Regions from separate parts of the Homo sapiens genome. Here region 2 is linked to region 1. Evidence: fine-mapped expression QTL. Tissue or cell type: whole blood. Region 1 holds a variant in brackets; the other region holds the start of a gene. All regions are shown on one strand. Distances are between the middles of the regions.

Region 1 (8,105 bases):
CACCGTGTCAGCCAGGATGGTCTCGGTCTCCTGACCTCGTGATCCGCCCGCCTTGGGCTCCCAAAGTGCTGGGATTACAGGCGTGAGCCATCGCGCCCAGCCCCCTGTTACCTTTTTTAAAGGTCCTGGTTTGGTATGGTCCACACTCCATTTCTGGAGATTTCTTTTGACTCCTTCTTCAGATGTGACTGAGCCCCTCTGAGTCCTACCTGCTCCTCTTGCAAGTTTGGGAACCTGGCACTGAAAGATGCGGATTCAGTGTTTAGAAGTCACAGAAAATTAGGACAGGAAGGGATCGTTTGAAGTCATCTGATCCAACTCCTCATTTCAATTTTTTTATAGAGGTGCTTCCCGTCTGGACTCCAAATCCTGTGGTCTTTCTCTGACCCAGTGGGAGGCTCTAGAGTGTAAGGTTTAGGAGGCCAGTTTTGACATAGTGCTGCCACTTAACTGCTGGGAAAGTTACTTAGCTGGTCTGAGGCTCAGTTTCCTCATAAGTAAAATGGAAATGATGACAGTAGTGTGTACTTTATAAAGTTTCATGGGAATTAAATCTGTATTAGCTTACTATTCCTGCTGTAACAAATTTTGTGGCTTAACACAACACAAATTTATTCTCTTATAGTCCTAGAGGTCTGAAGTATGAGATCAGTGTATTGGCAGGGCTGGTACCTTCTGGAGGCTTCTGAGGAGAATCCATTTCCCTGCCTTTCATAGCTTCCAAAGGCTGCCTGCATTCCTTGGCTTGTGGCCCCTTCCTCCATCTTCACAGCACATCACTTCATCCTGTTTCCATAGTCACATCTCCTTTCTTCGTCTTTGATCCTCCTGCCTCCCTGTTATAAGGAGCCTTGTGATTACATTGGTCTCACCTGGATAATCCAGAATAATCTCTCCATTTAAAGAGCCTTAACTCAATCACATCTTCAAAATTCCCTTTGCTATGTAAGAAAACATATTCACAGGTTCTGGGTATTGAAATGTGCACATCTTTTTGGGGCGGGGGCAGAGGTTGCTTTATTCTGTTTATGATAAAGTAACAACTAATGTAAAAGCATTAATTGCATAGCACCAGGTATGGAATAAGCATTCAACAAATGGCATTAGTATCATTTAGGGACCACCTACTAGTGCCCATAATCAAAATAGATATAGTTTTTGCCTTTGTGTCTTTGTGTCTTATCCAGTGTCCATAAGCCAAGGAATGCAGGCAGCCTTTGGAAGCTGTGAAAGGCAGGGAAATGGATTCTCTCCAGAAGCCTCCAGAAGGTACCAGCCCTGCCAATACCCTCATCTCATTTGATACTAATGCCATTTGTTGAATGCTTATTACATACCTGGTGCTACGCAATTAATGCTTTTACATTAATACTTTATCGTAAACAGAATAAAGCAACCTCTGCCCCCGCCCCAGGTGATTCTATCAGCCAGCCTTTCCTGTGTAATCAACTACCCTAAAGCTTACTAACGCAAAACAACTACCATTTATTTAGCTCTCAGTTTAGTAAGTCATCAGTTTCAGTTCTTCTGGTCTGGTCTGGGTTTAGCTAGTTTCCACTGGGCTCCCCCATGGTCACTGGGGCTGCTGGTTTATAATGGTCTTGGCTGGAATGAATGGGGCCTCTCTCCAAGTGTTTTTTTTTTTTCACCCAACAGGCTAGCCCAGGCTTGTTTGCATGTTGGTGGAAAGGAGCAACAAGAATAGTGAGACCTCTTAAGTCCTAGGCTTCGAACTGACACGTTGTCACATCCGCCACTTCTACGGATCAACAAAAATCACAAGGTCAGCCCTGATTCAAGGGCTTAGAAAATAAACTTAATCTCTGATGAGAGAAGTAGTATTGTGTCCCTTTTTACAATCTACCACAATGACATTGCAGGGAAGAGAAAGGAAGCATTGAAGTTGCATGCCAGTAGAATAGTTACTAGGGAAGAATTTCCCTCTGGAAAGTTCCCCAGGAAGGGAGGCAACAAGGCTTCAACAACCTGTTTAGGAGTGGCCCTGGGGTGGCTAATTATTCTTGTGCTCTCTGTGAAGGACAACACATTAGCATATTTCTTTCTCAGTGTGCTAAAATGCCAGGCCCCAAGATCTCTATTATAAATGACACAATTAAGTCCTTGGCAAGAAAAAGTCAAGTTCACCAGCCTCTCTTCTGTTTTTCAGAAAGCTAGTAGGACAAGCAGAGTTACTACACCAAAGTCCACACGAGTGACAAAAACACAGATTTTGAGAAATTGAGAGAAGTCATTGGAACATTAAATTCCTTTAAAACAAAGGCTTCTATTTGTCATTAGCAAATGTAGTGAAAAAAAGCAGGATGTAAAACAGTTGATCCAGCCTTATCCTAATTCTTTTAAGAGAAAAATATTTACTTATATGTAGGCCTAGAAAAATGATTGGAAAGACATATATGTATGTGTGTGTATATATATATATTTATATATATCTCACAATATTAACAGCAGTTAGATATCTTTGCTGGGATTAGAGATGACTTTTTTCTTTCTACTTCTCCGAAATTTCCTAATTTCTATAATAAACCTGAATTACCTTAGTAATCAGGAAAAAATTTAATTAAAAAAAAAACCCACAATGGATTCTTTTTTTTTTTTTTTTTTTTTTGAGACGGAGTCTTGCTCTATTGCTCAGACTGAAGTGCAGTGGCTCTATCTGAGCTCACTGCAACCTCCGCCCCCCGGGTTCAAGCGATTCTCCTGCCTAAGCCTCTCAAGTAGCTGGCTGGGATTACAGACGCATGCCACCATGCCTGGCTAATTTTTGTATTTTTAGTAGAGATGGGATTTCACCATGTTGGCCAGGTTGGTTTTGAACTCCTGACCTCAAGTGATCTGTCTGCCTTGGCCTCCCAAAGTGCCAGGATTACAGGCGTGAGCCACCGCGCCCAGGCCACAATGGATTCTAATTGCTTCAACATTTTAAAAATGAAGCCCTAAGTTATTTGATTATGTTGTTAATGGTATTTGCTGGAATTGGGACTTTCATATTTTTCCCTTTAAAATTATCCTGGGGCACTAAGTTACACATGTAGGTCTTGAACTCCTAATTTCAAGTTTATAAAATGTATTAATTAGTGCAAGTGCCTTTCATTTGTCCAATCTCTCAATTCTCTAGATGCTGGGAGCTCAAAACTCTTTAGCAAGTTAGGTACCCAGAGGCCATTCCACTGACTTTTTTTGAACAAATTACTCTACAGAGCTGTGATTTAATATCTTGCTCTCAGCTTTTATCAGGGGTCGATGCTGATATACCGAACAGGCCTGCAAAGAACATTTCTGCATCTTTTATAGAACTACTGCCAAAGGCCTTTTCTTTTATTTGGTTCACACTCCTTTCTACAGAGATCCCCTCAGTCAATTCCCCTTGTGTACCTTATGAGGAAGTTTGGTTTCTATAGTGCACTGGTGTGG[T/C]TCGTGTTAGGGAACCTTGAGATGAGGTCATTTATCTTGTTTTCCTTTTGCCTTTGCTGCTGGGAAGCTTAGAATCAAATTTTGTGCTCAATGAAGGCAACTATCCTTAACCAAGGTTTTCTATCTTGCTGAATAGTACCACCATCTATCCATCTCACTGAAGCTAGAAATTCCAGACAACATTCTAGAATTTTCTGCTGTCTTGCAGTTATTACCAGATGAAGGCATTCAGGAAATGTCACCCCAAAACATGCTGGTTTGGTATTCTGATTGCTTTGGCCTGAGGGCATTCAGGGAATAGCAATACAGGCAGAGCTTTCTCTGGGTTCCCTTTATCTGCCTAAAGTGGACTCCCCAAAAGAAACTCAGTGGTCATGAATCCCCTCCCTGGACTCTCATCAACCAGGGAAGATTGGCTCCTATCACAGGAGAGGGGACAGGAGGTCGATGCCATGCCAAGACAGACTTTGTCACAGGTTGTTGTGTATTCTTCTGAGGGCCCATTTATCTTTCCCCCAAATCATCCATTTTCCCTTAAGTTGCCAAAACCCCCTCCCCTGTCATACATGAAGACAGGATCTAAACTTCTAGATCTTACTGGATTTGGGGGTATTCACTTTTCTTTCATGTAATGCCTCTGTGCATGTAATCAATGTGTTCACCTTTTCTTCTTTAGTATTAGTCCATTCTCCCATTGCTATAAAGAAATACCTGAAGCAGCCTGGCCAACATGGTGAAATCCCATCTGTACTAAAAACACAAAAATTAGCCGGGCATGGTGGTGCATGTTTGTCATCCCAACTACTTAAGAGACTGAGATATGAGAATTGATTGAACCCAGGAGGCAGAGGTTGCAGTGAGCAGAGATTGCGCCACTGAATTCTAGCCTGGGCAACAGAGTGAGACCCTGCCACAAAAACAAAACAAAACAACAAAAAAACCCTGAGACTGGGTAATTTATAAAGAAAAGAGGTTTAATTGGCTCATGGCTCTTCAACTGTACAGGAAGCATTATGCTGATGTCTGCTTGGCTTCTGGGGTGGCCTCGGGAAACTTACAATCATGGCAGAAGGCAAAAGGGAGTCAGCAGGTCACATGGCGAAAACAGGAGCAAGAGAGAGAGGCAGGAGGTGCTACACACTTTTAAACAACCAGATTGCTTGTGAATTCACTCACCATCTCTATCTTGAGGACAGTACCAGGGGGATGGTACTAAACCATTCATGAGAAATCTGCCCTTATGATCCAATCACCTCCTACCAGGCTGTAGGATATAGTAAATTCCTCTTCCAAGTTTAGCCTGTTAACTTCCTTTAAAATTCAAGAGGGAGAAAAATTGTTAAGTACAATAAGTTCTGAGTTCTTCTTCAAAGAACCAATATGTCAGTACGTTCAGCTTCCCTGTTCTTTGTTCTCCATTTTAAAGCTAACTTCCTCATTCTTTACCTTCCTTGCCCGTAGTTTCAGTAAACAACCCCCTCCTAGCCTCTATCACCTGTTCTGTCCTTAGGCATCCTTAGTCGCCTGTTCTGTCCTTAGTAATCCTTAGTCACCTGCTCTGTAACTGTCCCTCCCGCCAAAACTACTCACCCCACCACTCTGGCTCATACCCTTGCTCTCTTTAAAATAGCCAATCAGAATTAGCTTAGACTGTGCTGTCCAACCCTAGCCAATAGGGGAAAGACACAACAGTAGGGGCTACCTGTGTCAGGAATAAGAACCCCTTCCCCTCCATCGTCCGGTGTGCTCTCGCCATTGCTCCATCTGTGAGACGCACCCTTCTATAGAAGTAAATTGCCTTGCTGAGAGAACTTTTGCCTGAGTGCTATTTTCACTTGGCAGCACCGAGCATTTACTTCCAACAAGGCCCCACCTCCAACATTGGAGATTACAATTCGACATGAGATTTGGACTGGGACACATCCAAACTATATCACCTGTTCATCTGCCTACTATCAGCTGATTTCATAGATGCAATTATCAAGTGCCTCATAGGGTAGAGGGAAAGTCTGCCCTCTCCTACACAATCCTGGAGCATTTTCCTTCTAAGGATCTCTCCAGTGTGTTCACCACTCTGTATTCCTATAGTCTCCTTTTAGTTCAGCCATCATTTTATGCTTGGATTGCTCAGTATTTCCTAAATCTCATCTTCCCCATTCCTACAAAAATCTTCTCCCCAAAATGTCCACCTTCCATACCAAGATGAGCAAGTGGTCTTTGTAACATGCCAATCTAATCTGGCAAGTTAAAAATCTTTCCTCACGCCTGTAATCCCAGCACTTTGGGAGGCTGAGGCGGGTGGATCATGAGGTCAGGAGATCAAGACCATCCTGGCTAACGTGGTGAAACCCCGTCTCTACTAAAAATACAAAAAATTAGCTGGGCGTGGCGATGGGCGCCTGTAGTCCCAGCTACTTGGGAGGCTGAAGCAGGAGAATGGCATGAACCCGGGAGGCGGAGCTTGCAGTGAGCTGAGGTCGCATGCCACTGCGCTCCAGCCTGGGTGACAGAGCGAGACTCCGTCTCAAAAAAAAAAAAATCTTTCCTTGTGAAGTGTTAACTCCTTCACTTCTCTCTCTTTCTTTCTTGTTTTTGAGACAGAATCTCTCTCTGTTGCCCAGGCTGGAGTGCAGTGGTGCGATCTTGGCTCACTGCAACTTTCTCCTCCTGGGTTCAAGCAATTCTCGTGCCTCAGCCTCCCAAGTAGCTGGAATTACAGTCATGCGCTACCACGCCTGACTAATTTTCATATTTTTAGTAGAGACGGGGTTTCACCATGTTGGCCAGGCTGGTCTCGAACTCCTGAGCTCAAGTGATCTACCCACCTTGGCCTCTCAAAGTGCTGGGATTACAGGCATGAACCACCGTGCCCGGCCTCCTTTGCTTCTCTTGCATAAGTCTCTATCTGCTTCTCTCAACTCTCATCTTCCAGCTTTTTACTCCAGCCATACAAGCTGTACTCTCCCTTGTCTCTGGGATTCCATTTTCTCAGTTGCTTTTCTCTCTTCTCCAGCTCCTCTTTGGCATGGTTCATACCATGGATTTTGCTTCAGAGTTTATGACTAAAGCCTTCCCTGGTTCCTTCTGTCATCTGAGACCGGTTAGGTATTCCTACTGTGAGTCCCCAAAGTTGTCCGCACTTCCCCTAACATAGCACTTGCCATGGTGAATTGTAGGGTAGGTTTCCTTTTCTGTCTCCTGCTCTAAACTGTAAGACCCAGGAGGGCAGGTTCTAGGTCTACCTCCTGTTATACCTTCAGGGCCAGCATAGCACCTGGTCCACAGTAGATGCTCACTAAGTATTTGTTAAAAGAATCAATCAATAAATAAACTAGTGTTTTGGCACTAAAAAAAAATCTTCCTCCCCCCACCTCCTCTCCTCTACCCTCATTATTTATCTATTGTTTGTCCCTATTGTTTTATATTTCTGCTTCCATAAACCAATCTGTAAATTTTTTTTCAAAAATGGCCACAATGTCCCACTCCTTGCAGCATGACCTTATCAAGAGGTGGCACCTATTTTCCCACCTCTTGAATCATTGCTGGCACCCCCATGGATAATACGCAGCTGATTGAGTGTGTGGCCGACTGCATCTGTCCTTGCATGTTTCTGCTCCCTCCCTTGGAACTGCACTGCTGCCATGTGAACAAGCCTGAGCTAGCCTGCTGGATGGTGAGAGACACAAGGCTGAAACTCCACCATCACCCCAGCCAACAGCCTGCTGGCCTCCAGATGTGTAAGTGAGGCCATCGAAGACTAGACAGCCCCAGACAACCTGTCACTGATGTTAGATGTCTGAGTGAGCCCAGTGGAGGTCAGCTCCGCTGGACCCAGATCAGTGGACATGCCTAATTTGAGAAATAGACTTGAGAGCAATAACAAAGGCTTGTCTTAAGCCCCCACATATCAAGGTGGTTTCTTATAGTACACCTTGCTATCTTTCCTGGAAACTGACCTCAAGTGACACCATCCAACACACAGGGAGACATTTTGAAGCCTCCAGAGGGTTAGGGTCAACCTGGTCCTCTTTTTCTCCAGCAACTTGGGGCACACACCCCAAATCTGTTTTTTGTTTGTTTGTTTTGTTGTTTTTTTTTTTTCTGAGACAAGGTCTCACTCTGTTGTCCATGCTGGAGTGCAGTGGTGAGATCATAGCTCACTGCAGCCTCAAACTACTGGGCTCAAGCTATCCTCCCACCTCAGCCTCCCGAGTAGATGGGACTACAGGTGCGTGCCACCGTACCTGGCTAACTTTTAAATTTGTTTTGTAGAGATAGGGGTCTTGCTATGTTGCCCACTCTGGTCTCAAACTCTTGGGCTCAGGTGATCCTCCCACCTCAGCCTCCCAAAGTGCTGGGATTACAAGTGTGAGCCACCGCAACCAGCCCCGAATCGTTTTTTAAAGACAGAATTATAAAGTGTGCCCCAATTTTTAGATGATCAAATTCCTCTTACATCCTTCTCATCTCTGCTTTACTTCTTCTAGCCCTTTCTTCTGCCCTAAAAAGCAAAATGAAACTGAATTTAATTTCTCTTCCCTGGTCTCAGAGTGTCTGCATTTTGCTTGCATTGGGATCCTTTCAACTAGCCCAGTGACTGGCTCTGAGTTCGGTGTGGCCTGCTGCTCATAACTGGCTCCTCCATGACCTCCGGCAAATGACTTAATCTCTCT
Region 2 (8,105 bases), 110 kb after region 1:
CCCAGGAGGCTGAGGTGGAAGGATTGTCTGAGTTCAGGAGGTTGAGGCTATAGTGAGCCGTGCTGTGATCCTGCCACTGCACTCCAGCCTGGGTAACAGAGCAAGACTCTGTCTCCAAAAAAAAAAAAAAAAAAAAAAAGAAAAGGAAAGGAAAAGAAACAAAACACATGCAGATGTAGATTGCGTGACCAGGGAAAATCTCAGTGAGGAATTGACTTTTGCGTAAAGACCTGAAGGAATTGAGGCAGCTGACAATGAATGTGGGTATCTGCGCAAAGAGCATTCCAAGCCAAGGAAGCAGTAAGTGTGAAGGCTCTGAGGCCCTGAAGGTAGGGAACTGTTTTAGGAACAGCCAGGAAGCCGGTGTGAGTGAAGCGAATGAGGGGAAGGAAGTCAAAATGTAGACTTCGAATGTGTCTTATGTATCTGTGGAAACATTTATACTGGACATTTCTTGGCCAGTGCTTCTAACCAGCATCTACACTAAAACCACGGGTTTCAAACAATTTTTTTTTTCTCTTTGAAGCAGAGTCTCACTCTGTTGCCCAGGCGGGAGTGCAGTGGTGTGATCTCATCTCACTACAACCTCCGCCTACTGTGCTCAAGTGATCTTCACACCTCAGCCTCCCAAGTAGCTGAGACTACAGGAGTGCACCACCATGCCCGGCTAATTTTTGTATTTTTAGTAGAGACAGGGCTTCACCATGTTGGCCAGGCTGGTCTCAAACTCTTGGCCTCAAGTGAAACATTTGCCTCGGCCTCTCAATCAAATAATTTTTAAAGCAGTAGAACCCTTTTGTCAAATGAAATATGAAATGGAGGTTCAAGGGAGGAAACAGAGGAGCAGGGACTGGCTGGCAACTCTCACTGTTACTCTCACCCCATACTGGTCCAAGATGACATCTTAGAGGAAAATTAGTTCCCCACCCAGCTCAGCCTCTAAACCCCACTCCAGAATCACAGTACGCTCTGCCTAGAGCCACAGCACTCTGGAGCACACTGTACCAGAAATAGTCCCATTTGACTCATACAACTACAAGGAGACTTTCAATAGATATTTGCCTCCAACATCTGAATGAAATTAGAGCCTCTAAAGTTACAACCACATGGTGATCCTTGGGTCTGATAAGTTCCTAGAGATAGTTCTCTACTCTGAAATTGTTTTTCTTAAACACATTTTTTTGATTTTTTGGTTTTTTTTTTTTTAGACGGAGTCCTGCTCTGTCGCCCAGGCTGGAGTGCAATGGTGCAATCTTGGCTCACTGCAACCTCCGTCTCCCTGGTTCCAACAATTCTCCTGCCTCAGCCTACCGAGTAGCTGGGATTACAGGCGCCCATCACCACGCCCGGCTATTTTTTTTTTATTTTTAGTAGAGACAGGGTTTCACCATGTTGGCCAGGCTGGTCTCGAACTCCTGACCTCAGGTGATCCACCCACTCGGCCTCCCAAACTGCTGGGATTACAGGTGTGAGCCACCGTGCCTGGCCCTTCTTAAACACATTTTTAAAAACTTTTTCTTTTTTGAAAAGATAACACAAGACAAAGATACAAAACGACATACTAAAACAGTCAACCTCCTATGGATAAATTACAGTGTATTTGCAATGGAATTCTACACACTTAAGCAAACAAAAATGAACTATTGATGTAGGCAACAACGTGGATGGATATCACAAATATGCTGAGCGAAAGGTGCCAGCCAGACACAAGAGTACAGACCATATGACCCCTGCATATGACCTTAAAGAACAGGCAAAACTAATCTTTGGTGACAGAAGTCGGAATTGTGGTTACCTAAGTGAGGGATGACTCATTGGGAGGATAAAATGTTTTATTGTTCTAATGGTGGAAAGAGGGGTGTAGATGTATGCACTAAGCTGCAGTGTGAAAATTTGTGTATTTTATTCTATGTATAGAATAATAACAAAGTCTCCTTTCCACTACTATGGCTCCCAGCTACCTCCCCGGAGGCCACTCTTCCAGTGAGGATTTCTTAGTGCCCCGTTTCTGTCACGACCTTCATGCCAGGGGCAGAGTCCTGGGAGCATGCCAGGGAGACACCAGAGGCCAAGGCTGCTCCATGGCGCAGCTGCACTGGGCCATGGCTTGTGTACGTACCCTTTGGCTTTCTACGGCCCTTTTACCCCTAGAACGCTATCCCTCTCTCTTCCTCTTCCTTCTTTCATCCCTCCCCTAAGGAGGCAGCTGTGGCATTGAGGCCTTGAGAGGTTGCTGACCCTTGCTAAACAGTGTTGCTTCTCCTGGCCCTCCTGGGTGCGCCTGCCTGGAGAGGACACTGCGTGCTGATCAAACTTATTGTTGACACATTCATTCTCTCTTTTATTCTCTCCCTTCTGATCCCTGGACTGATCTCTAGGAATTTCTGCTCCCTGGGTGCTCAGTCTCAGTGAGCTTCCCTGGTGGCAAGCCCTGATATGCTTCCCTTCCATGGGGCAGTCCTGATAACAACCTATTTTATATTTGCATATAAACCTGGCTGAGGGTCTGTCTTAACTCCAATCCCCCCACCCCCGGGCCCCAACTCCTAGCAGCATTCTAAGACTCCGTCCCTCCCCTAACCTGGGGCTTCAGCACAGCCGCGTCTGTGTCTTTTATCATCTGGGGTCGTCCTCCTACCAGATCTCCCTGCCTGAGGACAGAGGGTCCTGAGTCACGTTCAAGTCAATTTGGCAAGCGTTTTTGGAGCAGGGCAGAAAGTGAAGGGCACTACCCTGTTCCTCGACTTCAAAAATCGAACGCGGGGGAAATGGTGCACAATTCAGGCCCAGTTATAATAGCTCCTAATACCCAATATCTTGTTTTGGTCCTTCGTGAATACCAGGCATCCATCAGCGAACCTTCCATGCCTGATTTCTCCGAATATTCAAAACAACCCTGGGAGGATGAGCCCCATTTTGGAGATGAAGGAGCTGAGGCACGAGGTTTTAATGCGGGCATGTGGTCGCCAGAATTTGAATAGCAACTTCCCTAAGGAAACGCCCTATTTAGACTCTAGGGGAGAGGAGGATCCCAGGAGGAGTCCGCCAGCAGAAGCTCAGAGTCTGGCCTGGGGGCATTTAGTTATGCCACGCCCTTTCTCTACTGTTCCCTCCCGCGACAGGGGCCTGACAGGGAGTGGGGCTTCGGGCCAGCGTCTCGGCCGGACGCAGGGACTTCAGAAGAGGCAAATACAAAGCTCCGCATGGCAGAGGAACAGAGGGGCGCGGGGGAACGCGGTCCAAAGGTGGACCTTGTCGGCCCCTGGGCACTGCAAGCCTCGAGGCGCTGCGAGCGGTGAGGCTGTTGCAAGCTCCCGCGGCGCGCGCAAACTGCGTGGAACTACTTCCCCGGGGCGGCTTCGGGGCCGGGGTCCCGGCAACAGCCTCACGGGGCGCCGTGCGGGGCCCGAAGCCAGTTGCCAGCTCCCGGGCGCGGCCACGTGCGCCCCGCCGGGCTTGCACGCTCCGCCGCGCCGGGCCGCGGGGCCACCGACAGGCACGCGCGCCCCCAGCGCGCACACACTCCCGGGCACGCACACCGACCGCCCGGCCCACGTCCGCCACGCCCCGCCTTCCCCCGCGCCCCGCCTCCGCCCTCGCGGCGCCGGCCGCCGCCCTCCCATTGGCCGCACGGCGCGTGACGCGCGGCGCCAGGCCCCGCCCCTCGTCAGTCACTCGGCGGAGGCGGCGCTGGCGGGGACTAGTCTCGTCCGGAGACTGTGATGGATTTAACCAGGTGGGGAGGGAGGGAGGGCGCGAGCTTGGGAGTGGAGAGGGAAGGAGCCGGCCCACTCCCCGTCGCCGGCCTCGGGCTGCCCCTGCGCGCCCCCTCCAGATCCGGCCCGCGGCTCCCCTCCCGGCCCCCCCAGCCCCACGCTCAAGTCCACAAGTCCGCCCGCTTCCTGCGCCCGCCGCGGCCCTTCCCGGGGCGCCGCCGCCACCGCCTGGTGTGCGAGGCTATCCGGCCCGGGCCCGGGGCTTGCAGGGTGCCAGTGGGGGCGCCCGGTTCCCTTCCTCGCTCTCTCTTCCAGTCCCCGGAAAGGGTGGGTGGGTGGTCTCCCGAGCGAAGTTTCCAGCACTGGATTCCTGCGAAATTACGACGGCTCACCCGCGTCTGTGTTTTGCTGTCTCTCCCCCGTTTTCCTGCTCCCTGCCTCTTCCCTCCCTTTTCCCCCACTCTCCACTCCTCGGAAGGCCAAAAAGACAAGCGAAACCTGCCGCAGACGAAGGGTTTTGGGATTGTAGCGTCTGCACCTTCAGAAACAGTGCTGAAGCCTTTAAATGCAGCATCTGCGATGTGAGGAAAGGCACCTCCACCAGGTACTTGAAGATCTGTGTTACCTTTTGTTAAAGGACTTTTTTTTTTTTTTTTTAAGTGAGAGGGTAGTGAGCCTTACTTTCTGCCCTTTTTCCAACTTGTTGATTACGGCTTTTTTTGTATTTGCGGGTGGGTTGTGTGTGTTTTTGGGTTGAGTGTATTAAGTGTTGGGTGAAAAGCCTTGTGTTCGCTAAATGATTTATGGGAGGGAATTTTTCCAGGTTTTCATTTTATTTCAAACGGACACTGGATTTATTTGACACTTGTGTCTATTGGCTTATTGGTATTGGCTGGGGAAGAGAGGAAGCAGTACTATCGCTATGGATTGTAGGACATAGATGTTTTATATTTTTGCCATGTGTAGAATGGTTTTAATTTGCCTGTCCCGAGTTACTTTTCTCTTGTCTGAGAAATTTAGTGGGGGTAGTAAGGCTGGCTGTGCTTTTCCTGTCTTGAGCTGCAAATGTCTGTTACTTTCTTGCACTTGAAAATAAATGTCGGTATTTGATAAAGTAAGTGCATTTTGTGGGAGACTGAGCTGTCAGTTTTTTTTTTCTTTGACTAGCTTATGTGGGGTGGTGATGGGGGACGATTTTGTAAAATGGTGAAATGAGCAGTGACTGTGGAAGTTTGTGTTTAAAGCTCTGTGATGATGAAAAGAATGTTGAAAGAATTCCTTTTCATTTTGATGAAGGTCGTAAACTGCATGTGATGTTAAAACGAGTTAACTACTTTAGATTTAACATTCATAAATACTTGGATAAAATGTCAAGACTCATGTAGTCTTTTGGTCATCTTTTAATTTATGTCTGAATTTGTTTCATTGGCGTTAGAGTTTGAAGTTAAACTGTTCTTGGTGTCATTTAATGAACAGGCATTGGGTGTGTGTGTGAGACAAGAATGAGTTTTTGGTGGATCCTTTAGAACATTACAGTTGATTGCCAAAAGTCTCATTTTATCAGGTACTTATTTTTGAATTGGTGACATTTCAGTGTGACTGTGTAGTAGTACTTCACAGTTCCAACTGGATATTGTTCTTTGATTAGATGAATATGTCATGTTAAGGTTTCATTGGTTTATTTATACTTGGGATTAAATAGGATTATTGGGCAACCTAAAATAATCTAACTCTGAGATTAATTGGCCTAATTATTGTTTCTGTGAATTGCACTCTTTAAATGATGATACCTTTGAATAAAAATAATCAAAAACTAAAAATATTACTCCATACGTTGTTTTAAGAAATTTTTGTCGGTGTTTTGTATTATCATGGAATATATCTAAAGTAAAAAACACGCATCAGTAGTTTCATAGATTTTGTTTTGCTGTCTAAAATAGGGAATTCCATCAAATGGCATGAAAGTTTTTAGAAATGTATTTGTTATTTAAAGCAGTAGTGATTGTATATTATTTATGAGTAATGTTTTTTACATGTAGAAGCCCTCAGAGGCCAAACCTCTTTATTGTGGTTTTGCTTTGAGTGTTACCGTAGATGGTGTTCAAGTAAATGATTAGGAAACTCCTAAGAACTTGAGAACATTACTGGTGAAGAGAAACGTAAACCAAATTCAAAAGTTTATGTCTGATTTATCGCTGGGAATGATTATCTCATAATGAAGTGCATTTCAGCTTTTAACATGTATTTTAAAAAACCTTACTCATCAATTTTTCGGAAGCACATGGAAGGTGTTGACTTTTAAAAAAGGTATGTATGTATGTTTAAAGTTTTTTCAGAGCCGCAGATGACTGTTGAAACTTAGTTAAAACTACTGAATTATTTACAGTGAAAATATTTTAGAGTCTATTCAGGAACAGGGAAAGGCGTCTACTTTAAGGGTCTTCGAGTAATTTTCTGATGTCATTTAATAGAATTTGAATACAGATTTAACAGGTGTGAGGACTGAAAACTGTGTGCATTCATGACACTCTTAGCTGGCCACAGTTGGTTTCATTTTGGTTATTGTCAATATTTTGGTGTTTTAGATCTATTCAGAAGTCATCGTTGGTTGGAATGCAAATAACGTTTTGGTTTTCCTACATTATGAACAGGTTTTATGTGGAGAAGTGAGTTTGACAGGTTTTCATCCTATCCTGTCTTGTGTGTTAACTGTTGGTTAATCCCTTTGTGATACTGGTTACTGCCATGTTTTTTTCTTGGCCCTCTTGTATTTTTTTTGTACCTCAAAAGTTTGAGTATGAACTTGACATTTTCTATCTTGTGTAGTTTTAATCAGACTTGGTATAGATTGATGGCAGTAGAAAACTTGTGTTTTGGATGCTGGGTAATAGGCAATATTTGTGATTTTTAGAATAATTTGTTTCGTGGCACAGAAATTGTATTTTATTGCTCTGAGCTGGTGTTATGTATTTTAACAATTCTAGCTAGTTGGCTAGCCGGTGGTTATTTTGCAGTTTTTGATCATTCTCATCACTGTCACCTTCATCTACCAGTCAACCAAGGAAACCACCTATGACTTAGTGGTAGGCCAGTATGATAGAGAACTATATTTGCCCTTTGAGGGTAGAATTGATATTGCTGATGTGATTGGGAAAATACTGCCATTCGTCTGAAGAACACTTATTAAATTCGTAGGATATGAAAGATGCTGCTGAAGGGATTGGAGAGAGGAGAGGGGAGTGTTAAAATGTTGATAAGCCGTGTATGGGAATGACCATAATTCCAATTATAAAGGCTGTACGGAAGCAGGGGTCTGGCTTAGGGAATCAGTTAGAAGGATTCCTTCTTCTCCACTTCTTTTGGACAAGGAGAATTAAAAAATCACCTGTCACCTTTTCACTATTACCATGTACGTCAGATATTTTTAGTTCTGCAGGTGGAATTGTTAAGGTGATTGAGAATGAGGTCTTTTTTTTCTTTTTGGAGCAGCAATAGAGCAGAATGAAAGGTGAGATGGTCTTAAGGAATCTGTTAAGGGAAGAAGGTGGCCTAGGCTGTGTGGAGGTTCAGGGGCAGCAGGAGAGATCTATATTTTAGATGTATTATCAGTATGTGTTGGGTGTCTTTGGTTTTTTGATAAACTTGTTTTTCTAACTAGACTGTCCACTCTTTGTGCCTTTTCTGGTTATATATATATCCTTTTGTTTGGAGACAGGGTCTTTCTCTGTCACCCAGGCTGGAGTGCAGTGGCATGCTCATGGCTCACTACAGCCTCAACCTCCGTGGCTCAAGCGATTCTTCCACCTGAACCTCCTGAGTAGCTGGGACTACGGGTGTGCACCATCACATCCGGCAAAGTTTTGTAATTTTTGTAGAGACAAGGTTTCGCCCTGTTGACCAGGCTGGTCTTGAACTCCTAACCTCAAGTGATCTTTCTGCCTTGCAGGAGTGAGTGATAATTTACTTATAACACCCATTGTAAGTCTGCAAATCAGTGATTTCTAGTCATTTTAAAGAGTTGTGCAGCCATCACGGCAACCCAGTTTTAGAACATTTCCATCATGTCAAATGGTTTCGTTATATCCGTTCTGTAAGTCTAACAGAACAGAATGGAGAAGTCATGGGCAACAGGTTGCTTCCCTACCATGCTGATGTACCCTGAGCCTTTCAAGGTAGAAAATAAAAGTGCATGTTAGAATGTGTGTGTAAGGTGGCAAGTGGCTGGGGGAGAAACACTATCCCTTTCTTAAGTGGTAAAGTAGTATTTCCCATCCTGCTTTGCCAGTCTCAAGAAAGAGGATACCGGCTTTTAAAAGTAGAAGAAAAAAACTACAAATGCATGAATGTACCCAACTGTGTGTGTTTTTTTTTTCTTTGTATTTTCCACCT

What was found. PIP is the estimated chance that this variant, and not a neighbour inherited with it, causes the effect.
Region 2: it holds the start of RYBP, and the variant in region 1 is fine-mapped to the expression of RYBP in whole blood (TOPMed, PIP above 0.99).

Annotation. Positions count from the first base shown.
Region 1 is chr3:72,554,901-72,563,005 of GRCh38, reverse strand. LOC124909394 (a long non-coding RNA gene) reads left to right here and starts at 1,187. Exons shown (of 2, transcript XR_007095960.1): 1 at 1,187-1,269; 2 at 1,657-1,832. RefSeq lists a silencer at 7,545-7,735. The variant T/C (reference allele first, on the strand shown) is at 3,433.
Region 2 is chr3:72,442,711-72,450,815 of GRCh38, reverse strand. It overlaps RYBP (RING1 and YY1 binding protein), which reads left to right and starts at 4,193. Exons shown (of 4, transcript NM_012234.7): 1 at 4,193-4,320. The coding sequence starts at 4,193. RefSeq lists silencers at 3,347-3,756, 3,817-3,876.